7 linked regions of the Homo sapiens genome follow. The protein of the gene in region 1 interacts with the protein of each later gene in a pairwise test. Each region holds a gene or a part of one and is shown in the gene's direction. Other genes may lie near its edges. The genes, in order: MAPT, AATF, ANXA6, ANXA2, DDX21, DOCK2 and TIA1.

Evidence for each region.
Region 2: the proteins of MAPT (region 1) and AATF come close enough for resonance energy transfer, tested with the Homo sapiens proteins (one study listed by BioGRID).
Region 3: the proteins of MAPT (region 1) and ANXA6 interact in binary tests that used the Homo sapiens proteins (3 or more experiments, as listed by UniProt).
Region 4: the proteins of MAPT (region 1) and ANXA2 interact in binary tests that used the Homo sapiens proteins (3 or more experiments, as listed by UniProt).
Region 5: the proteins of MAPT (region 1) and DDX21 interact in binary tests that used the Homo sapiens proteins (3 or more experiments, as listed by UniProt).
Region 6: the proteins of MAPT (region 1) and DOCK2 interact in binary tests that used the Homo sapiens proteins (3 or more experiments, as listed by UniProt).
Region 7: the proteins of MAPT (region 1) and TIA1 interact in a protein complementation assay, tested with the Homo sapiens proteins (one study listed by BioGRID).

What each region holds. Positions count from the first base shown.
Region 1 is NC_000017.11:45,897,554-45,901,053, forward strand, and holds part of MAPT (microtubule-associated protein tau), read left to right. Parts: exon of another isoform or gene 1-1,245; intron 1,246-3,500. UniProt on the Homo sapiens protein: Promotes microtubule assembly and stability, and might be involved in the establishment and maintenance of neuronal polarity.
Region 2 is NC_000017.11:36,951,954-36,955,453, forward strand, and holds part of AATF (protein AATF), read left to right. Parts: intron 1-932; coding exon 933-1,343; intron 1,344-1,816; coding exon 1,817-1,954; intron 1,955-3,500. UniProt on the Homo sapiens protein: Part of the small subunit (SSU) processome, first precursor of the small eukaryotic ribosomal subunit.
Region 3 is NC_000005.10:151,133,780-151,137,279, reverse strand, and holds part of ANXA6 (annexin A6), read left to right. Parts: coding exon 1-49; intron 50-944; coding exon 945-1,024; intron 1,025-2,796; coding exon 2,797-2,853; intron 2,854-3,500. UniProt on the Homo sapiens protein: May associate with CD21. May regulate the release of Ca(2+) from intracellular stores.
Region 4 is NC_000015.10:60,352,987-60,356,486, reverse strand, and holds part of ANXA2 (annexin A2), read left to right. Parts: intron 1-488; coding exon 489-568; intron 569-2,273; coding exon 2,274-2,333; intron 2,334-3,500. UniProt on the Homo sapiens protein: Calcium-regulated membrane-binding protein whose affinity for calcium is greatly enhanced by anionic phospholipids. It binds two calcium ions with high affinity. May be involved in heat-stress response.
Region 5 is NC_000010.11:68,980,170-68,982,868, forward strand, and holds part of DDX21 (nucleolar RNA helicase 2), read left to right. Parts: intron 1-1,367; coding exon 1,368-1,412; intron 1,413-2,373; coding exon 2,374-2,643; 3' UTR 2,644-2,699.
Region 6 is NC_000005.10:170,081,275-170,083,882, forward strand, and holds the end of DOCK2 (dedicator of cytokinesis protein 2), read left to right. Parts: intron 1-567; coding exon 568-710; intron 711-1,521; coding exon 1,522-1,584; 3' UTR 1,585-2,108; downstream 2,109-2,608. UniProt on the Homo sapiens protein: Involved in cytoskeletal rearrangements required for lymphocyte migration in response of chemokines. Activates RAC1 and RAC2, but not CDC42, by functioning as a guanine nucleotide exchange factor (GEF), which exchanges bound GDP for free GTP.
Region 7 is NC_000002.12:70,245,829-70,249,768, reverse strand, and holds the start of TIA1 (cytotoxic granule associated RNA binding protein TIA1), read left to right. Parts: upstream 1-1,140; 5' UTR 1,141-1,338; coding exon 1,339-1,364; intron 1,365-3,940. UniProt on the Homo sapiens protein: RNA-binding protein involved in the regulation of alternative pre-RNA splicing and mRNA translation by binding to uridine-rich (U-rich) RNA sequences.

The sequences.
Region 1 (3,500 bases):
GCGGATGACGGTGGGGTGCTGAACCAGCCGGTGCGCCTCTGGAAATGTCTGGGCACGGATCCTGGGGCCATCGACGACTCCTCCCCATTCCCAGCAGGCGGGAGCTCTTACATTCCGAGCGAGTGACCCCTCTCACCCTCTGGCGCTCACACACCTGTAACTCCAAACCTCCGTCTCAGAATGGTCCAGGCTGGAAGGGATGATGGGGGCTCCGACAGCGACTGCCTAGCTCACCCCTCTGCGTGCTCAGGCTCCAGGCTCAGCAGGACCAATTTGAGTTCTATCTGATCCCCCTCGGCCCCTTAACTGACCCATCCTACAGGAGACAGGGAAATGTCTTTCCTACCGCGGTTGATTCTGGGGTGTCATTTTGTGTTTTGTGATGGCTGCTTATATTTACTGTATAAGCATTGTATTTACTGTATAAGCATTGTATTATAATTACTGTATAAGCTGCTTATATTTACTGTATAAGCATCTCCAAATCCTCCCTCTACGTAAACAAATTAATGGATAAACAGATAAGTGTATCCCCTGCCCCCACCCCTGCTACGCAGGTCCGGAGTGACTCTTGAAGCTCATACATTCCTTGGCCAAGTTTGCTTCTCTAACAGATGTTTATATAGCAATAACCTGGCTTGGCTCTTGGGTTCACCTTTGGACGATTTGGGGAAGGGGCTTGTTGGCTTTGCTGGGTTTTGGATGAGTGACAGTCCATGACTGTTCCTGCTGGAAGGGCGTGACTTTTAAGTGGTTTCTAATATCAGGCATTGCTCCTCCGACAGGAACAAAAGAAATGGATACTGCCCATAAATTGTTAGAAAACTTAGAATCGCTTTGATTGAGGAAAGGTTAGATTTATTCCGGTTGGAAAAAGTGGCCTTTCTATTAAACGTGCCCTTTGACCCTCATGCCCTTGGAGGTCGGTGCCAGCCTGGAGATGGGATAAGATTGTGGTTTTCCTTCTGCCTTTTTAACATCTGTTGTTACAGTCCATTTGTTGAAAATTTAAAGAAACTGTTTTATTCCACTTTCCCTCAGCATTTATGTGTGTGGTTTCAGTAGCTCTGTGGCTATATGTACGAACACGTGTTATTTTTCCAATTGGACATGTGATAATTTTCCAACTGGACCTTGCCTTCTATTGATGTATTTATTTAGCATCTTCCTTACTCCCTCCTTGAAAAAGAATCACTCAAAAACAAATAAAAACAGCCGTAGGGGCCTAATACAGTGCTAGACATACAAGAGGTATTCGGTCCATACCAAATGGATTTTATCCATGAAGGATAAATGGGGAAATACAGTGGGAAGCAGGTGGGAAACTGCGTTTGACTCTGCTCTTTCCTCCACCACCACTTTCCTCATCACCGTGTTCAGAGACCCCCAAAGCCCCCTCACACTCCCAGAAACACCCCCCTGGCCACTCCTAACTTGCCATGCCCAGGAGTTAGGTGCTTCCACTAGTGACATGGAGCTGGCGTTTGGGGGGCACCTCAGCAGGTGACGGGAAGAGAAGACCCCAGCCTCACCAGCTGGGCTGCAGCAGGGAGAGGAGTCCTCATGTTCCAGCAGGGACTCTCAGCTGTTTTCCTGTAAAACCATGGTTCTCAACTGGGGGCCACTGAGATGTCTAGAGAGATGTTTTTGTTTTCACAACTCGGGGAGGGTGCTACTGACATCTTGTGGGTAGAGGCCAGGAATGCTGTTAAACATCCTACAAGGAAGGCACAGGACAGTCTCCTACATCAAAATATGACCCAGTCCCAATGTCACCACTGCTGGGGTTGACACTGGCACTGCTATCTTAATTACATTCATTGAGTGTCTTTTAGGAGGCCCTATTCTAAGTGCTTGCTAAGATTATCTCATTTAATCCTCACAACACTTCCGCTATGTAGCAGGTGCTGTTATTATCTCCGTGATGGGGAAACTGAAGCACAGAGAGGGTTAGTAACTTGCTAAAGGTCACAGAGCCAGTGGGTGGTGGAGCTGGTTGCCTGACACTAGTTCCCTCCCCTCTCAGCCACATGTGGGTTTACTTGGCCATTGTGGACTAGTCTGGGAACCCAGATATGATCTATAACATTGACCCAGTAGAATATTGATTCCAAAACCACTGTCTCACAAATGAATTTTTACAAGAGTCTGTAATCGGAGCATGACCCAGAATAAGGTTAGGGAGATGTGGAGTTAAAGCTCTCAATTTCTTATCTGGCCCCGACACAGAGAGCAAGGCATTTCACTCTACATTGGTGCTCTGTTTATAAAACAAAGAGCAAATATCTCTTCCTAAGGTCCTTAAACCTCTTCCCCCAATCCAGGGTTTCTGGACTGCTCTGCCATATGACGGGGCAGCTGGTTTGATTGACCCAGGGAAGGCTGGAAATCAAGACTGGGGGATCAAGACGTAGATTCAGTGTGGCCAAGGTCAAGTCTCTGAGGTTTAGGGACATCAGATCCCCAGCTTAGGTTCTGTACCTCGGCAAGGTGAAAGCGTTGGCGCCCACTGATGAGGCCTGCTCTGAGATTGTGGGTGTGGGTTGAGTTGGGTGGGCATAGGCAAGTCCTCTTGTAAGAATCTTTTGGCAAAGATGGGCCTGGGAGGCTTTTCTCACTTCCTGGGGCCCAGGCTTTGCAATAAGTATTCCATTATACTGTGGTACCTTGGGGCTACCTGAGAATCCTCTGTCTCGCCCCTGTTGCCTTGCCAAAGAGTTTGCTGTCCAAGAATTCCTTTCCTGTCTCCAGGTGCCATGCTCCTGCCACCTCTGCCAGGTTCCCTGCCTGCCCAGATGGCTCCCAACTGAGTGTGAGGAGGAATTTGAGACAGGTTTTGAGCTTTCTGGGTTCTCCAGTTAGGAAACTTTCTGTAAGCATGCAGATAGAATGGGCTTCAGCAAAATACAAACTCGAACAACTTCCATGTATAGTCCCTTAATTTTCTTTGCTTTTTTCATATTTCATCAGGCTCCATGCTGAGCCCAATCAGGGACCCGATAGAAATCCAAACACCATGTCAGCGAGTCCCCAAGAAATGCATTTTGTGCCAAGGCTATTCAAGGAAGGTTTGGGAGCAGCTCAAGGGCAGACACTGTTACCCTCCCCCAGGTCCCCAGTGCAGGGCAGTGTTCTGCATGTGGAGGCAGTTTGGCCTAATGGTTAAGGAGGTAGGCTCTGATCGGGCCTCCTGGGCACAAATCCCAGCTCCCTGCTCACTGTGAGACCTAAGCCATATTGTTTAGCTGCTTGGAGAGTTTTTTGTCATCCACAACTTGGAGTATGATGGTACCTGTCTCACGGGTTGCCATGGGGTTCACACAAGCTAACCCGGTACTCACTAGGGCCAAGCACATAGTAACTGCTCAGTAAATGGCATCATCGGCGGTGTCCTGTGGATGAGTGCTTGTGATTGGCTGAATGACCAGAGGGGTCTAAAGATCCTGGTGATGGAATCAGTTGTACAGATAAATTGTTACACTGAGTAGGGATCAAGATAG
Region 2 (3,500 bases), 8.9 Mb from region 1:
TACCATGGAACAGATTGGATAAACTGTAAAAACCTCTACATATCAGATGATACTCTAAGCATAAGTCAAACAAAGAGCCTTAACTAGCACTCTGTCTACTATAGGATCAAGTTCAGAGTCCTCATGAAAGACGAGACCTTTCCTGATTAGTCTCATCTCCCATCACTTCCTTGTGCATCCTGCACTCCAGTGCGTTTTCCCTTCATTATCTATGAGCTGTTGCCTTATGCTTCATAAGTAAAATTATAATGTCTCCTTCTCCACATGATACCATCCCCCACCTTTCCAGGAGAGTTAGGTGGTTCCATCTCCATACACTGTGTACTAATGACCTTGTAATATAATTATTGGCATGCATATCTACCACTCCCACCAGACCATGAACTCCTCCCAGCAAGTATTAAATTCTATTTGCCTTTCCTTAGCCCCTGGCTCATAATGAGTGCTTAATAAGTATTTAGTAAATAGGGCAGACGGATGTGATAGATTGTACATTTTTTCAGATCAGGTTTGGGAAAACTGGTAATTCTCTAACACCAGTTGAAATCTTACTGTTCTTCAAGGGCCAGAGCAAATGCTAGCTCTTCCTTAGAGATTAGCTTAAATTCACTTGCCCCACAGTTAAAATTTCTCACTCTTCTGGGTTATTGAAATTTTGTCAAAGCACTTCTGATGCTTCCTTGAGTTGTAATGTTGTGAGTCTGTCTTTCCCACTAGCTCCTTTTGTTAGGGTAGGACCCGTGTTCTATTCATCTTTGCTTCTCCCTTAGCATTTTGGAGATTGTAGATGTGTAATAAATATATTGTTGAATTGAGTGCAGTAAGAGATTTTCCCCCTGATGCCACAGTGCTTAAGTTGAAATGAAGTCTATGGCTTGGTATTTTCTCCAGGTAATACCCATTTTTCTCTTTCTTCCCTCTCTTCTTTGTAGATGAGGAAATATCTGATGAGGAAGGGTCTGGAGATGAAGATTCAGAGGGACTGGGTCTGGAGGAATATGATGAGGACGACCTGGGTGCTGCTGAGGAACAGGAGTGTGGTGATCACAGGGAGAGCAAGAAGAGCAGAAGCCACTCTGCAAAAACACCGGGCTTCAGTGTCCAGAGTATCAGTGACTTTGAGAAATTTACCAAGGGAATGGATGACCTTGGGAGCAGTGAGGAGGAGGAAGACGAAGAGAGTGGCATGGAAGAAGGGGATGACGCGGAAGACTCCCAAGGCGAGAGTGAGGAAGACAGGGCTGGAGATAGAAACAGTGAGGATGATGGTGTGGTGATGACCTTCTCTAGTGTCAAAGTTTCTGAGGAAGTGGAGAAAGGAAGAGCCGTGAAGAACCAGATAGGTTTGTACATGGTTTTGCTGATTGCCTGTTTTTCAAAGTATCTGCATTTGGTCTACTTTTCATTTGTTTGTTTTTGGCTATTCTCTATCTCCTGTGTCCTTTCAATTAGTTTGTGACATGCCCCACTTACCCAGAAGCCTAAAGCCCTATTCCTGTATGCTTAGCCAGCCATTTCTGCACTGATCTGCTTAGCTGGTTCTGCTCTAGTACTTCCTGCAACTGGGGAAGATTGAAGAGAAGAGTGTTTTCTCCTCTCCTTGGGTTTTAGCATTCCCACTCTGCTGTAGCAAATACTTGCTTCATGGATACTGAATTTATTTTCTCTAATAGAGAATATTTGTTTCCATGGCATTAAACTGCTAAAGCTGTGGTGCTTAGAGACTGGTGTGGTTTCCTGTTCTTCCCCACCCCTGCCACCTCACCCCCAGAATATTTTATTATTGAGGAATGGGATTCTCTTTTCTTCTTTTCAGCACTGTGGGACCAGCTCTTGGAAGGAAGGATCAAACTACAAAAAGCTCTGTTGACCACCAACCAGCTTCCTCAACCAGATGTTTTCCCATTGTTCAAGGACAAAGGTGGCCCAGAATTTTCCAGTGCCCTGAAAAATAGTAAGAATACTTATGTCCTGTTGGAATACTTAGAACCACTTTGTCAAATGAAGACAGCTTTGATTGAAGTGGACTGGGAGCTTGAGCCATGTTTATTGTGCTTTCTTCTCATCTGCCCTTGCTCTCCCCTCCCCATCCCCCTTGGCTTTCCAAGTTGCTTTTTTTTTTTTTTTTTTTTGAGACAGAGTCTCGCTCTGTTGCTGAGTCTCAAGTACAGTGGCGCGATCACAGGTTACTGCAGCCTCGTCCTCCTGGGCTCAAGCAATCCTCCCACCTCAGTGATCCTCCCACCTTAGCCTTCCGAGTAGCAGGGACCACAAGCGTGCACCACCCTGCCTGTAGAGAGGGATATTTTGTAGAGACAGGGTCTCACTGTGTTGTCCAGGCTGGTCTCAAACTCCTGGCCTCAAGCAATCCTCCCACCTTTGCTTCCCAAAGTGCTAGGATTACAGATGTGACCTACTGAGCCTGGCCCTGAGTTAATTCTTTAAAGCTCAGGGGACACTGGTTGAAAACCCACTGATGTAGAAAGGGAGAAAAAGAATGTCTAATTCAGCTCATTAAACTTGGTTGTATCATGTGTTTAAAAGATGCTTCCTATGTTTGAGAGGTTTTTAGAACAATGTGCTAAGATGATCTTATTTATATCTTTCTTTGAGTGACATAGAGTGAGGAAAGATGATATGCCGAGGGAGAAACACATTTTAGAGGAGAATTACTGAGCTATAAAGAATTCTAGAAGAGGAAAAGGAATTGAGAGACTATTTGGTTCCCAATGTCTTCATTTTACACATGAGAGAATTAAGACCCAGAATGACTTGCCCAAAGTTGCAGAGCTTATTTGTGTATGGCGGAGATGAGGCTCCAACTTTTCTACCTTATGATGTAGGAATCTTCCCTCTGCACCACACTGCCTCCTGTGTGCTGCTTGCCTGTGTGCCCAGTGGCACTGAAGGACTGGGGCAGAGGGAGATTTAGGGTGAGTGTGCTGTGTTTGGGATCTGTATATATCTATATCTAGATATTCAGAGTCCTCATGAAAGAGATATCTATATCCATAGATATAGATATATATGTATAGATTATGTATCTATCTCTCTATATATATATTTGGGAGGCCTTGGCCTCCCAAAGTGTTGGGATTACAGGCATGAGCCTCTGCGCTCAGCTGAGATCAATATGTCTTACTTGCATGCTGAGACTTCATGTTTTCATTTGCTCTTTAAAACTTATTTTTTTAGTATCATGGAGTTAGAGTTGGAAGGGACCTGAGGAGGATATCTAATTTGGCATCTGCCTGTAGGTAGAACCGCCTTAAGACATTCAAGATCAATGTGTAGGATTTCCCAGGTAGGGAGTTCAGTGAACGTTTCTTGTAGGTGAATACCTGATGTAATTAGGAATGGCTTCCTAGAGTCCAGTTTTTGGGTTTTGTGTCCCGCCACACTTAAAGTCTGCTTCTTCCCCTGTGGGAAGTCTGGGCAGTCCTTCCCAGGAGCCTTACGTGGCCTGTGTGGGTGAGGTGGGCCATTTATATCCCCGCCCC
Region 3 (3,500 bases), on another chromosome or scaffold:
TCCCGGACCAATGAGCAGATGCACCAGCTGGTGGCAGCATACAAAGATGGTGAGATGGGCAGGAGGGGCCGCTTAGGATCTTCAGATACAAAATGAGGATGATTGCAACAGTGGGGACACTAAGATTCTAGCCATCTACCTTCTCTCCTCCTTTCCTCTGATCCATTTGTCCACCCATTTATCTACCCAATAAGTACTTGCTCTGTGCTGGGTGATGTGCTAGGTTCTCGGGATAAAACCAAAGGGGTCCCTCTCTCTTAGGCCAATGAGATAATGAGATAATGAAGGAGACACACAATAAACAGGTGAACAGATAAACACAGTGATGATGGATTTTAGCTAAGTGTTGTACAGGAAATAAGGTAACAAGAATCAAACTTTTACCAGTGAGGTCTTGGGAGGAAATGAGGAACCAATCGTATAAAGAATGGAGAGAAGATCCTTCCAACAGAGGTCACGGCAAGTGCAAAGGCCCTGAAATAGAAATGAGCCTGGTAGCCGGTACAAGGCTAGACAGGTAGAGGACAGGGCAGGATCACACAGGGCCTGCAGGCCAAGAGAGAGATGGTGTTTTATTCTGAGTCTAATGAGAAGTTGGGGAGTATGATGATCAGATATGGGTTTTAAGACAGCCATCCTTGTTGCCGTGGGTTGGAAAGGAATTGAGAATAGAGGAGGAGAGAACCATCGGAAAGCTGTAGCCACTGTCCAGGTGGGCCGTCATGGTATAGGTGGGCTAGAGAGAATGAACAGATTCCATTTCATCATATCATGGTCAGTACGAAGAGCTGTGAAAATATACCCTGGGTCTTGCCATGATGGACGTGTAGACTGGGTTTTGGAATTCTTAAAAATATCTGATCATTTTGGGGGCAGCAGGGCCCTTTATCCTAGATCCCTGAGGTCTCTGGGGATGAGACTAGAGCTTGCGTTCCTTTCTGCAGCCTACGAGCGGGACCTGGAGGCTGACATCATCGGCGACACCTCTGGCCACTTCCAGAAGATGCTTGTGGTCCTGCTCCAGGTTGGTTCACAGCCTATTTTTTTCCTCTGGAGCTTGGGATAGCTTTTGTCTGGCTCATCTGGGTGTAGATCTGAATGTCCAGGGTCTGGTCAGCTTCCCCTGGTTTGCACAGGCAGGTGTATTTGGCTAATCCTCTTTCTCTTTGGCACACAGTCCTCTCGTGCCCAGGAGTGTCTTCTGCTGTGATTTTCTTCCTCTCTCCACACTCGCTCCTCCCGCTCCTCTCTGGGCCTCCTTCCTGCCATTGCTTCTGCAGCTGCACATGCAGCATTTCTGGACCCCAGCATTCCTGTGGCTACTGTGTGGAGTCTCCCACATCCGAGCCTTATTGCCTCCTCACCGCCCGCCCAAAGTATATCACAAAGAGACTATTAGGAGGCTACAAATTGGTGTCTGTGGCTGAATTCAACCTGCCAAGTTGGATTTTTTGTTTGTTTTCCCATAAAATGTGTTTTAAGAAAGAAAGCAAAACAAGTTTGAGTTAGTTGCTAACATTTAAAAATTGTGAGATTTTGCTCAAAAACCAGATTTCTGGATTATTTTAATGTATTGAAAGTTGCGGTAGCAGCAGACCTGCATTCTGCACGACTGCAGTGGGCTGGAGAGCATATGCGTCCTGCCCGTTTCACCGTGAATGTTATCTACCTGGCTCTGTAGGTATCTCTGTGACCACAGGCACGATGGGAACAGGCATTGAGATGTCTCAAGCTCAGCTCCAAGGACCAAATGGTTATGAAACTTTATATATAAATTAAGCCACCACTATGTTTCCTCGTTCCCCCATTTCCCTTTTATACCAGCTCCTCCCAACTCTGTTCCTCTCATTGCCATAACAATCCCATATTAACCAGCTGGGGAATGATCAGGAGAAACCTCAGGAGTGGGACAGTGTGACCTGTGCCCCATTTTCAAAGCTGCTTGTTCTGGAGAGGAGTGTCCTATCCCTGTATCTTGGAGTCAAGCGTTTTGTATCCTCAAGGTTTGACACCAAGCAGCAGCGCGGCACACATTGTAAGCTTGCCAGCTCTGTCTTCTGCTCAGTCCCAAAGAGAACCCTGGGGGTTTGAGATCCTGGAATGCACAATCCAGGGGGAAGAGGGGATGGCCATAGACCTCTCCAGGCCACCTGCAGACCTCTGCCCACGTAAGAAGGAGTTGAGTACTGCTCGCCCCTCTTCCCTTTGTGCATCCTCCTATGTGTAAGCTTCCTCTATCAGATGAGGCAAAGGGCATGGGCAGAACAACAGAAGCACCATTAGGATTTGGTGACTTTGTAGCTTGTGAGCTCAGATCTTGGGACCTGAGTCCCAAATCCTTATTGGTGAATTCTTTAAGTTAAGGTATAAGAGCTCCTAATAGAATGCAAATGTTCAGATCCTTTGCCCCTGTGGAATCGTTGCTGGAGGAGTGTCATGGGCCATGCAGGATCTGTGGCAGGGACCCTCGAGAACCTGGGGCCCTGTCCTCAGAGAGGTCCTCAGGGCAAGGCTCTGCCTACCTCTGGGCTGGGGACACCTGGAAGAACCTTGGTTGTTCTTGGGACTCTCCTGTGTGGACCCAGCCCTGACGAGGAAGGGAAAGGCCAGAGGGAGGGTCCCTTTTGATTGGCTCACAAAATAGATACTGTGGTCTTCATGCAATAGCAGTCACTGCTTCTGGACACATCTGGGCCACCAGGGTTTTCCTGCTTTCCCTGTCTCCACCACTGGCATCCAGGCCTCCCTCCTGACTTTGCAGTGTTTGAAACACATGTTCTTTGTCTTTCTGCCCAGGGAACCAGGGAGGAGGATGACGTAGTGAGCGAGGACCTGGTACAACAGGATGTCCAGGTAAACAAGCACCACTGAAAGTCCCTGAGGCACAGCAGAAGAGCCTTGGGAGGGGAGAGGTTGGGGCCCTGGGAAGGGCTGGAGGTGAAGTCATTTGCATCAAATACCAGAAATAACCCAGCCACAGCTGTCATGTATACCGGTGCTTTGTTGAAGAAAAGATATAAGTTATCTTTCAAAGGTATATCCCATATGTAATATTGGTATATTGGTGAGGTGTACTTTGGAGCTTTCTTTATTCATTCAGTTTTTAGATATTATTGAAGTAAAATACCTAGCATGTGCTAGGCACTCTGCCAAGCATTTAGAAATCACTAATGAACAAAATCAAGTGGTACCGGGAGAGACAGGCATACATTAATCACACAAACACCTTCTCTATCAATATACTGTACATTGCAGGTGTTTTGAGTACCCAGTACATGCCAGCAGCACTACAGGGGCTGATACAGAGAATGCTATGACATAGTCCCTGTTGTTGAGGAGCTCATGCAATAGTGTGGAGATAGACAGGTGAAGAAATCATTATCATATACAGTAGATCAAAGTGATAAAGAAGTAGAAAGCTATGGGAGCCTAGGAGAGGGAGGAAAGGAGGGAAATAGAACTGTGCCTGGGGGCATCGGGAAGTACTTTGAGAAAAAAAT
Region 4 (3,500 bases), on another chromosome or scaffold:
CTACTGTATTTCAATATAGATGCTATTTTGAATATTGAAATATACTTTCATTCAAAAGCATTGTTTAATTCTTAGTAGTTTTTGCCGCTGTGCATTTTCTCAGTGGACAGTAAAGCACAATTGTGTGTGTGTGTGTGCGTGTGTAGACCTCCAATTTTTTTGATGTTCAGAACAAGTACTCACAGTCAGGAGGGCTGGGAGCCAGTATTTAAACTACACGAGAGGTCACCAATCAACGGTGAGCCTGAGGATCCCTGATTTGATCTAGCCCTGCTGCCCCCTGTTATGGATAATAACTCTGGCTCTGATTTCATGAGGGCGAAAATCATTCTAGTGAATCCTTCCTCTGTTTGGGGTTAAGGAGAATGGATATGTCCAGCTGACGTAGCTGTTCTGCTTCTCAGAGTCTTAGTGGGAAATGGGGAGATTGGGGTGGATGGTTGGCTACACAGGCAGAAAGCATAAAACCAGATGTATTTTCCTCCAAGTGTACAAGACTGATCTGGAGAAGGACATTATTTCGGACACATCTGGTGACTTCCGCAAGCTGATGGTTGCCCTGGCAAAGGTTGGTTTCCCAGTTTCTTTCTTTGCCCTTGCTTCCTCCCAAGGCAAGTCACATACCTCATTTTATACTTGGAGTGAATTAACTAAATCCCCTGTGCCTGCATCAGAAATTCAGCTGCATTTTTGAAAGTGGGTTTGCACTGTCACTGCAGAGTTGTCAATTTTGTATAATAGGATTTCTTATCCTGCAAAACCTCATGGACAAGTGGACTTTGGGAGCCAGAGAAGGGATGGGCGGCTCTCAAGTCCTGGCCTGGATTTATGTGCCAGAGCCTTGGCCGTGTGACTTAGGGAAGGTCACTTTGCCTCTATCTGTGGTCATGCAGGACCCAGTGGGAAGTGACCTTCTGGTTTCTTTTTCACTGCGTTTACTTCTCATGGAAGAATTTGCCCATATAGTCCTTTGTCTGGGGTGGAGTTGTCTTTGTGGAGCTGATTGCTAATATTAACACATTAACATGGAGGAAGGGGCATTTCCCCTGTGAATCCCTAGTTCTGGCCAGCGTGTAGCTTAATACTTATGTGCCAGGGGAGGGACGAGAGACCCTGGGAACCCTGATGACAAATGACAGATAGTGCGTCCGGCCCACTCACATCTCCATTACTGCAACAACTCCTATGCCATTCTCCCTCGCTCTCCTCTCTTCGCTACCACCTGCCCCATGTACCACCATCCACGGATCTCTGTGAAATACACTTTCACCATTTTACTCCTCTGTTCAAACCCCATTTCTGCTGCATCAAATTTAAACTCCTAACTGCTGTGAAAGGTCCTCTAAACCCTCCCTGCATCTTCTTTGCTCATCTTTCCCGCTCAGCTCTGCTCTGACAGGGCAGCTCCTTACTTACCTGAGAGCGTGCTGTGCCATCCCTTGTGTGCCAGCTGGCTCTCCCGCTCTGCTTGGCTAGCTGCATCTGACTGACCCTTGAAGTTTCAGCTTAAGCCCAGGCCCATCGTTCACACTCTTTGCTGACTCTGCCCTCTGAGAGTTCTTCCTCCGCCCGCATTTTGTGTCTTTCTAGTGCTGTGGGTTCCCGGGCTGCTTTACATTTGTTTCCACATATTCCTCCATCTGCATTGCAAGCTCTCTGTGAGAAAGAGCTAAATCTCATCAGCTTTTTGTGGGGGATGGGGACAGGGATTCTGTAAGGTGTGTAGGCCAGGACTGGGTATCAAGGGGGGGATTGTTGATGGCAAGGCACAGCCCCCACTTCCTTGCTCAATGATTTTACCACTCCTTGGCTGGTCTAGGTTTCTTTTTCTTTTTCTTTTCTTTCTTTCTTTTTTTTTTTTTTTTTTGAGACAGAGTCTCACTCTGTCACCAGGGTTGGAGTGCAGTGGCGTGATCTCAGATCACAGCAACCTGGTTCAAGCGATTCTCCTGCCTCAGCCTCCCGAGTAGCTGGGACTACAGGCATGTGCCACCACGCCTGGCTAATTTAGTAGAGACAGGGTTTCACCTTGTTAGCCAGGTTGGTCTCCATCTCCTGACCTCGTGATCTGCCCGCCTTGGCTTCCCAAAGTCCTAGGATTACAGGCGTGAGCCACCGTGCCCGGCCCCATCTATGTTTCAAAGTAAGAAAAATCTTACGTGGTTACTTATTTAGGAAATTAAATAATGGCGTACATGGACTGGGGAGAAAACATTTTCAGTTTTAAAATACACAAAGAAATGTATTTGAAGTTCTTTTTCTTTCCCCCATAGGGTAGAAGAGCAGAGGATGGCTCTGTCATTGATTATGAACTGATTGACCAAGATGCTCGGGTAAGTGCTGAGCTTTTTGCTTTGAGTTTTTGTTTTCTGGTAAGTCTCTGGATAGTCTATATAGTAATTTAACTCTGTGTGACAAATGACTCCCAAACTCTGTGGCTTAAAACAACAAACATGTATTATTTCTCAGTTTCTGTGTGTCAGGAATTGAGGAGTAGATTAGCCCAATTGTTCTGGCTCAGGGTCTTTTCTGAGGTTGCAGACAAAATGTTGCATGGCTGCAGTCACCTGAGGGCTTGACTGGGTCAAGGGAATCTGCTTCCAAGATGGTGCACTTCACATGACTGTTGGTAGGAGACCTTAGAATCGCTCCACATATGCCTCTCCATGGGGTTGTTTGAGCGTCCTCACAACATGGCAGCCGGCTTTCCCCAGAGCAAGCAATCTGCAAAGAGGAAGCCACAGTGTCTTTTATGACCTAACCTCAGGAGTCCCACCTTGCACTGCTGTCATACTCTTTTCATTAAAAGTGAGTCACTGAGTCTAGCCCACACTCAGTGGGAGGGGATTAGGCTCTTCCTTTGGAAGGGAGGAACCTCAAAGAATTTCTGGCCGTATTTTAAACCCACCATAGTCTGACAGCAATGTTTATTAGAAGACATTCTCTTATAATGCTGGTGTTACTTACAGAATCAATACGTGACTCACATATGCTCACTCAGGCTTTGCTTGTATGGAAGCATCAGTTTCTGCAGAGTGTAATGTGGCTGTGCATACCAATCAGGCAGGCAGGTGGGAAGCAGAAGAAGGTGGAGGAGACACAGCCAGGGACAGGATGGTGTACTGCTCTGTTGTGGTGGGGGAGAAAGGGAGGCCAGCAGAGACCTGTCCTTTTCTGGCTGAATAAGACTTTTGCCAGTTCTAGTTCCATTATCTCTGAGAACTATTTGTTAAGCTTATTCAGACTGCAATGAACTATATTCTTTACTCAGAGGGACAACGATTATCTCAAAGTAAGTCATAAAAGCTGCAGAAAAAAATTAATTTAAATTAATGTTAGTTTTAAAATTCAATATATTCCACACGGCACTTCTAGCAGGTAGTAGAGAAGGGTTTTAAATAAAGTAATAGAAGTTGGGTTTTGCAGTTCCTAGATGGTGGAAGATCACGGAATGAATATCTACCCTTGCATAAGCCTTTCTTCCTCTTGCCCTCCCTGCC
Region 5 (2,699 bases), on another chromosome or scaffold:
GCAGAGGTTGCGGTGAGCCGAGATCGCGCCATTACACTCCAGCTTGGGCAACAAGAGTGAAACTCCGTCTTAAAAAAAAAATTTTATATATATATAAATCTTTTCCTCCAAAGTAGCTTTTATGACTTTGCTTAGCCTTAAATCTTACCAGGCAATGTTAGGGGCGTCTTTATCTGTACTTCAGAGTCTTTAGGACACATGTTTATGCAGGTAAACTTTTACCTTGCTGTGTTTGCTAATGGAGAGCCTCAAGAACACTCAAAGGCAAAAACTGTTTTCTAATTACCTCTATACCCAGTGAATGCCTGGGATTATACTCTACTTCGTAAATATGTAAGCGAAGATTCCCATGAATGGCAAAATCCACCAGTAGGTGATGATACCTATGTTATGATTGGGTAAATTTTGGGGTGAAAGGGGTGTTCCTTATAAAATATTGCAGTTGAAGACAGCAGGGAGAGGAGTGCCTGTATTAGTTAACACATAGTTTGACTATATTTTTAGACGATTTCCTTGATTGGAGAGGATGGCACTTAATATTAAAGATGGTGTCCTGGCTAGGTGCCATGGCTCACACCTGTAATCTCAGTATTTTGGGAGGCTGAGCTGGGAAGATAATTCTTGAGACCAGCCTGGGTAATGTAGTGAGACCCTGTCTCTACCAAAAAAAAAAAAAAAAAAAAGCCAGATGTAGTGGCATGCACCTGTAGGAATTCAAAGTTACAGTGAGTTGTTAATTGCACCACTGCACTCCAGCCTAGGCAGTAGAGCAAGACCCTATCTTAAGAGGGAAAAAAAAAAGATGGTGTCCTGTATTATTTTTTTCATACTCTTACAGAAGGCTGAATTAAGAAAAACCAGAAAATCAACAATAGAAGATCACTTGTTTTTCTGCTTTTAATTAGGTCATTCTGAATAGCTGGCATTGCTTTTCTGATGGAAGGCAGTATATAGTTTAGACTATAGGTTTTAGAGCCATACAGACTAGATTTTAAATACTTGTGCCATTTAATAGCTGTGGGGCCTTAGACAAGTCAGCTAACCTTTCCAAGCCTGTTTGCTCAGCAATAAAATGTAGCTAATAGCCACTAGGGGGTTAGCACAGTGTAATAGCTAAGACTCTGTCTATAGTTAGAAAGTTCTAAATCATTTGGGGTTCTTTTTTTCAATGTTCCTTGTCTTTCTGCAGTGTACTTTTGGCAGCTATAATGTATTAGCTTTGGTCTAAAGTTCATCTAAAATTATACCTGGTGGTTTTTTTGCTTTATGTTTTTTGTTTTCTTTTTTTTAAAGAATACGTGGTCTTTTAAAGGGAGTATTTTTCATGTGCGTTGGTTGGATTAACTTCCATTTGCTTTGATTTCTAGGGTGTTTGCTTTGATGTACCTACCGCATCAGTAACAGAAATACAGGTATTCTTTTCCCTTAGATTTTAAAGTTAACATACCTAAATTGTAGAATGTTAATTATGAAAATAGAGAATAATAGATTGGGAAACAATAGTTCTGGTTCCTTTAGTAAGAGATAATCGATAATTAAATTTTGGAATATTCCCCCCTAACTTTTTAATTCTGATATTTTTGTAGTTGAACCCACCTGGTTTCTATATTTCCTTTATACAAAGTTGTGAACGATATCCAGCTCTCCCCACCCTTTAACACTTATATATGGTATATAGATTTTGTGTGTGTGTGTGTGTGTGTGCATGTGTGTGTGTGTTTTCAGACAGAGTCTCGCTCTGTCGCCCAGGCTGGAGTGCAGTGGTGCAATCTCGGTTCACTGCTACCTCCGCCTCCCGGGTTCAAGCGATTCTCTTGCCTCAGCTTCCCAAGTAGCTGGGATTATAGGCCCATCACTACCCCCAGCTAATTTTTTGTATTTTTAGTAGAGACGGGGGTTTCGCCATGTTGGCCAGGCTGGTCTCGAACTCCTGACCGCGGGTGATCCACCCACCTCCCAAAGTGCTGGAATTACAGGCATGAGCCACCACGTCCAGCCTACAGGTTTTCATAGACATTTAAAATTGTTACATCTTTATTCAATACTGTGAGAAATGTGTGCTTAATATATTTGTTTTATTACCTTTGGCTGTAGATACCCTGTAGCAATTGAGTTGAATAAATGGTTTAATAACTTAATAAATGAAGTAGTGATGAGGGCTATTTCTCATAATGAAACTGTGTTTTCCCACACTTCAGGGACACTGGCTTTTGGACCATGATGGGTGGCCAGTGTTATTTTTGACCAGTGACTTGTTAAGCACTTATGTTATCACCTTTTCTTTGAAGAAGTGGCAAATATTTTGTTTTTCTCATGCTTTTTAAAAATTGAATACTAATTAAAGCACACAAAAACAAAACATTCTCTCAACAGGAGAAATGGCATGATTCACGACGCTGGCAGCTCTCTGTGGCCACAGAGCAACCAGAACTGGAAGGACCACGGGAAGGATATGGAGGCTTCAGGGGACAGCGGGAAGGCAGTCGAGGCTTCAGGGGACAGCGGGACGGAAACAGAAGATTCAGAGGACAGCGGGAAGGCAGTAGAGGCCCGAGAGGACAGCGATCAGGAGGTGGCAACAAAAGTAACAGATCCCAAAACAAAGGCCAGAAGCGGAGTTTCAGTAAAGCATTTGGTCAATAATTAGAAATAGAAGATTTATATAGCAAAAAGAGAATGATGTTTGGCAATATAGAACT
Region 6 (2,608 bases), on another chromosome or scaffold:
TTCACTGGTATCTGCTCAGCAGGTCTCACCACACCCTGGCGGTCTGGGCTCTTTCTCCCATTTGGCCAATGTCAAAACCAGCAGTCAGAGAGTAACTAATTTTTCATGTCTCTGTGACGCCAAGCTGGGGCTGTAACCACTAGGTCATCTGGCCCCTCCACCAGGTGACACGTGGGTTTGAGACTCTCTTCCCGCTGTCTCCTGCAATGGGGAGAGAAATCCAGGGTGTTGGTGTTGGGAGCTGGAGGAAGAGTAAGCTCACACTGTCCCCTGCCTTGGAGCAGAAGGTTCTGTTTCCTGGGGATGTCAGGGCTTTGGGGCAAGGTTTTGACCAGGAGCCAGGAGGCTGAACCCTTGTCTGTAGGGTGGGCAATCTTCACTGCAAGAGGACAGCTTCAATGTCCCCTGGCACGGCAGGAAATAGGCATCCTGCCTCCTGCTTGGCACATACAATGTGTGATCCCTGGATGCTGGCTCTGTCCCCCAGCCCTCCCCCTGTCTACCTCCCCCAAGGCACTGCCCCTCCTCTACCCACCCATTCACACCCCAGCTCTGCTCTCCTTCCAGCCCTGGCGCTCTCAGTGGCAGGCATCCCTGGGTTGGATGAGGCCAACACATCTCCCCGCCTCAGCCAGACCTTCCTCCAACTCTCAGATGGTGACAAGAAGACACTCACACGGAAGAAGGTCAATCAGTTCTTCAAGACAATGGTGAGGACATTGAGGGTGGAAGGAAAGGAAGGCATTGGGAGGAGAAAGGGAAGAGAGCAATGCAGAGAGAAGAAAATGGGGGGTTGTGTGTGCATATGTGGTCATTCCTAGGGAGGCATAGTCAGGAGGCCCTGAGTTCTGGGACACTGTGCAGCAATGCCCAGAGGGCAGTTCTCCTCTGGGGCCTCAGGCAGCTCCTCTGACCAGGATTGACCCCAGCTAGGGATGTGCAGGACCCAGGGACCTCAGAAGCAGTAGGTGGCCTACCCTCGCCTAAACTGCCCCTTAGTGCTCCAGCCCTTTTTTATTCAACCTATATCACAAAATCCTACAAATTGAACATTAGTTTCCAAGCGCTGATTCTGCAAGTCCCATCTCCTATTGTTACTTGTTGGCCTTTGCTCAAGATCAAGAAGGTACCATAACACATCTGATCCTCAAGGTAATATGAAATCAGGACTCTGCTACTACAAATATCTCAAGTTTACCATGAGCACACGATGAGTCAGGCACCATGCTAAGCACTTCCCAAGCATGGTGCCATTTGAGCTCCCACTCTTAGGATTTTATATGGGAGGCTCACAGGGTTTGGTAAGTGAGGTGCCCAAGTCCACATGGCTAGTGAGCCTGGGCTCACTCTACTGTCTACCACTGCCTTTCTGGCCAAAGCCAAGGGCATAGCAGCTCACATTCACTGGGCTTTGGGCAGGGGTCAGTGTTGAGGCCCTTGTGATTAGGACTGGGAAGCTCCATTTTGGTGCTTAATCTGATAATCGCATCTTGGTTTTGTGCTTGTTTATTCTCTCAAAAGCTGGCCAGCAAATCGGCTGAAGAAGGCAAACAGATCCCAGACTCGCTGTCCACGGACCTGTGAGCTGCTGCTGACTAGGGCTGCATGGGAGAGCCAGGGAGGGGAGTTTCTGGAAGAGGAAAGCCATGCGTGGAACATCGAAGCCTCAGAGAGTGGGAGACTGTCCCCATCAGTTGTCCTTACTTAGAGGAGACAGAGAGGCCAATCAGGTCCCAGAGCTTGAATGCTAACAAGCCCAGCATCCCCTGGGGCTGTGATCATGGTGGATGAGGAAGCCTCAACGTAGATTCCTGAACTCAAGGTACCAGCAAGAATGCCTTCTCCCAGTGTGCTCTCCCCAACATCCTAGGCACAGCTTTCATAACCCAGTTTCTTAGGTGTAAGAAACTGTTTTTATCTCATTTATTAAGTCTCAGAACTTAACAGAAAAGGAAGCCTTTTAAATATTCTTTTTAATTTTATTTTAGATTAACAGTTTTGTACTTTACATTTTTTTATACAACCAACCAGTTTCTTTTCTAGCCAATCATCTCTGAAGAGTTGCTGTTTCTTACTGACAATAAAAAATGTTCTCTTGGTTCGAATAAGCCTTGTTGCCTGATTCTGTTGGCTGACTCTCCTGGGCCCAGGACTGGGCAGGAAGCTCCCTGGAAGGAAGGCAGGCCCAGGGGCTGCAGTGATGTGAAGGAGCCTGGTGATGCCCTTGCCCAATGCCAAATTTCCCCACCTCATCTATGAGAAGATTCTTCAAGAATCTCCATGACTCTTGTTCCTTAGGTGCCAAACCCTGGGCTACCAGCATGTTAAAAAAGTTGCCCTGGTCTTCCTCACGAATCTGAATAGTGGAGTGTCATACCTCCTTTCTTCACCTTTAGAAAGAGATGGCAAGACCACCCAAGCCAGGTCACTCTAGTAAAGACCAAACATAATGCCAAAGAGTTAGGAAAAGAGGGGTCTGAGGTCCAGTGGACTTATGGTCCAGCTCTTGGATCTTGTCACCGGCTCCCAAGTGGTGGCTTTTCTTGGAGGAATTCTCAGGTTTTTCAGATGAGGCCCAAAGGAGGTGAGTAGCTTTGTCAGGCAGCAG
Region 7 (3,940 bases), on another chromosome or scaffold:
TTGAGACGGATCCTCGTTCTGTTGCCCAGGCTGGAGTGCAATGGCAAGATCTCGGCTCACTGCAATCTCCACCTCCCAGATTCAAGGATTCTCCTGCCTCAGCCTCCTGAGTAGTTGGGATTACGGGCCCCCACCACCACATCCAGCTAATTTTTGTATTTTTAGTAGAGACAGGGTTTCGCCATGTTGGTCAGGCTGGTCTCGAACTCCTGATCTCAGGTGATCCGCCCGCCTCAGCCATCCAAAGTGCTGGAATAACAGGCGTGAGCCACTGCCCCCGGCCTAAACAGCTATTTCTTAAATGCTTTTCAATGTGCAATCAATACACGGAAGAAATGCAAATATAAATAAAAATCTGGCATCTGGAAATATCCTCCCCGCGCTGAAAAATCTGGCTAGCACCAACGACGCAAATTCTTAATAAAATCCTTACTTTTTTAAGTAAAACTTTTTTTCTTTTTTCTTATTTCTTAAGTAAACATTTTAAATTGAAATTTTTTTTCTGTACAGAGAAAGTTGAAACATCCATTCCTATGTTTGGGATGAGAAAAGATAAATTATTTATGTTATTGGAAAACAGAAGATTACAGACTGTCAATAAACTTTTACTTTTAAATGAATAAATAATACATGACAATTCTTTTCACATGAGAGAACGTCTGCTTCTATTTCCTCCTAAAATACTGTGGCGGCTGGGCATGTCAACAGCGCCGCTGGTGTAGTGGTATCATGCAAGATTCCCATTCTTGCGACCCGGGTTCGATTCCCGGGCGGCGCATAGGCGTTTTGCTTCTCGCTCGCTAAAAACCAGATAGCTTGAAGAGTCTTTATATATCTTTCCAAAAGAGGAAAGATTTAGGCTTTTTACTGTCCCTGAAGGTTTCCACTCCCTCATAATTCGCGGTCGAAACACTCGAATCCGCAGCCAGAAGACAAAAAAGTTCACGCAAATCGTGAAGTAGTTAATACTTGCGCCTGCGCAGTCTGAGGCGTCCCTCGCGTCGGGTGGAAGAGCGGCTGCGCAACAAGTGAACCTATGGATTAAGGTGTAGCCGGGCGGCCCGGAGGTTGAGAGTGCAAGATTATTCTGCGCCTGCGCGGCCCGGGTAACTTTGCTGGCTGCTCCTAGGCTCCCGGCTCGCCGCCATCTTGTATTGGGGTTTCATTGTTCCCGCTGGGCCGGGCGGTTTAGTGTAATTGCCGCCGGAGGAGGAGGCGGAGTAACCTCTGGTCAGCCGAGAAACCCCACTATCCTGTAGCCATAACCGCTTAAACGATTTGGGAGGTAGTGAAGGGCAGGGAGCTGGACCTGGAGGCGCCGCCGCGACAGCAGCAGCCATGGAGGACGAGATGCCCAAGACTCTGTGAGTCTGGGGCAGCGATGAGGGAGGCGGGATGGTGGTCGTCCCGGAGGGAAGGCCTCGGCCCTGCGCCGCTCCCAGCCTATTGTTCTCCGTGGACACCGCGATATCGTGGTTTTTGTTTCCTTAGCATGCACCTGGATGCTTACAACCAAGACCCAATCTGTGAGGACGAGGTGAAGGGAGACGGGGCTCAACCCTCTCAATTAATCCCTTCACTTTAGCAACACCATTGCATGACCTTTGCTCTCGCCACGGGCCCTCTGTGGTCTTAGACCTGGAGAAAAGACTTTAATTCAGACCTCTTTTTAGAACTCGTCGAACCTTCCTTTTGTCCTATGCTTTCTTTCCTTTTCCCGCTTCTCCCCCTTTTTGATTAACCTCTTCTTATCTTTACAGCCGTCTCCCTTTAATTTTACTTTTGATTTCCTACTGAAATTCTTCCTTTCATTTTCTTCTCGGTGATAAGATTTTTTTTCCTCCTCGAGGGTGCTTGTACTCATTTTCAGTGCAGTAAACTTTATTCTTGCAGTTGCCAATTGGAAAAAAGCCAAGCATTTTTCTTTAACCTCTGGCTTTCCTTCTGTAGCACCCACCGACCAAAAAGCCTAACCAGACACCCCAAGGATTTGGAAATCTCACCCAGAAGGAATATATCAATTGAGGGGAAATGGATTTAATATTATTTTTATAGTCGTTTACTACTGTTGTGATTGACATGGTGTTGAACGAGCGGGCTGTAAATGCCCTAACATATTTACAGAGAATTTTTAGAGATAGCGTTAAATTACCGGAGCGTGGATATTTTCTTTGTCGTGTGGCTTCCCCAACTGCGTTCTTTGTTTTTCGAGGTATTATCGGATGAGTTGATCCTGCCTTTGTTGGCATTTCTCGGAAGAAGAAAAGCTCAATGAGTTCTTGACATAGCTTTTTGTTTTTCTTGGATGACATAGCTTTTTGTTTATATTCTTGGAATACTGGCAGTTTGAGAGCTCCATGCATTAAAAATGCAATTTTAGGTTTCTCTTTGCAGCTCTCTAATAAAGTTGCTCTGAAGTACGATGTAATTGTTTTTTTACCTCCAAAATTTTTCCACTTTTAAGTTGCTATTTCTTGTCTATATTGGAAATGTGGTTACACTTGTTTTCTTAATAGATTGTCAGTTAATCTGTTAGTAACCTTGAAATTTCTTTTCTCTATTCCTGAGGCTCAGAAAGTATCTTTTCAGTAGGACGTAGCAATTAGTGCATGACCTTTGTTTTAGGAAAGATTGTATCTGTAGATGAATACTCCCTAAAAAACTACTAGCCTCACGGTGTTGGTGGAATCTCTTCCCTCTTGCCTCTTAGCTATGACAGTCATCAGCATTTTGGGTTAAGGCACTGCTCGTGTTTTATAATGTAAACTTAATATTCTCAGTATTAGTTTGAAAATGTTTAATTTTAGAAACTGCAGAAGTATCTGACCACTTAACTTTTTAACTTTTTAATTTTGTTTTTACTTTTTAATTTTTTGAGATGGAGTCTCACTTTGTCACCCAGGCTGCAAGGCTAGAGTGCAGTGATGCGATTTCGGCTCACTGCAACCTCCACCTCCTGGGTTTAAATGATTCTCCTGCCTCACCCTCCCAAGTAGCTGGCACTACATGCGGGCACCACCATGCCCGGCTAATTTTTGTATTTTTAGTAGAGATGGGGTTTCACCATGTCGGCCAAGCTGGTCTCGAACTCCTGACCTCAGGTGATCCGCACACCTCGGCCTCCCAGAGTGCTGGGATTACAGGTGTGAGCCACTGCGCCTGGCCTGTCCTCAACTTTTAACTATTACATTTATTACTTATTTTGCCTTGTATCCCTCACTAATACACCCCATCCAAGAAACTCTTCCTCAAAGTAGTCATACTGTAAAAGTCTTCTCTTGTTTCTACCTCCCTCAACCCAAACTCCCATTTTTCTAGTCAGGCAAACCTTGACCAAACATGAGGGTACTAATCCCTAAGTTTTCCTAATAGTGTTTTTAATTTTAATGTAAGATTTTTGCTTTAATGACCCTGGAAGTCAGAGGCTTTTAATATATGTTCTTAGCAGAGTTCTTAGCACATTAAAAACACAGCCTCTCAATATATGTTCTTAGTGTGGTCCATGGTAAGTAATCAATACATTTGTTTAAGAAACTGGTATAATTGGCTGGGCACAGTGGCTCACGCCTATAATCCTAACACTTTGGGGGGCTGAGGAGGGTGGATCACTTGAGGGCAGGAGTTCAAGACCAGCCTGGCCAACATGGCGAAACCCTGTCTCTACTACAAATACAAAAATTAACTGAGCATGGTGGCGCATGCCTGTAATCCCAGCTACTCGGGAGGCTGAGGAAGGAGAATCGCTTGAACCCGGGAGGTGGAGGTTGCAGTGAGCCGAGGTTGCGCCATTGCACTCCAGCCTGTGCAACAGGAGGGAGGCTCCATCTCAAAAAAAAAAAAAAAAAAAAAAAAAATCTGGTAGAATTTCAAGCAGTGAATTAAGATTTTACTCTTTCTTGAGGATAAAATAGAGTCTGAATTTTTATCACCCACATACCTA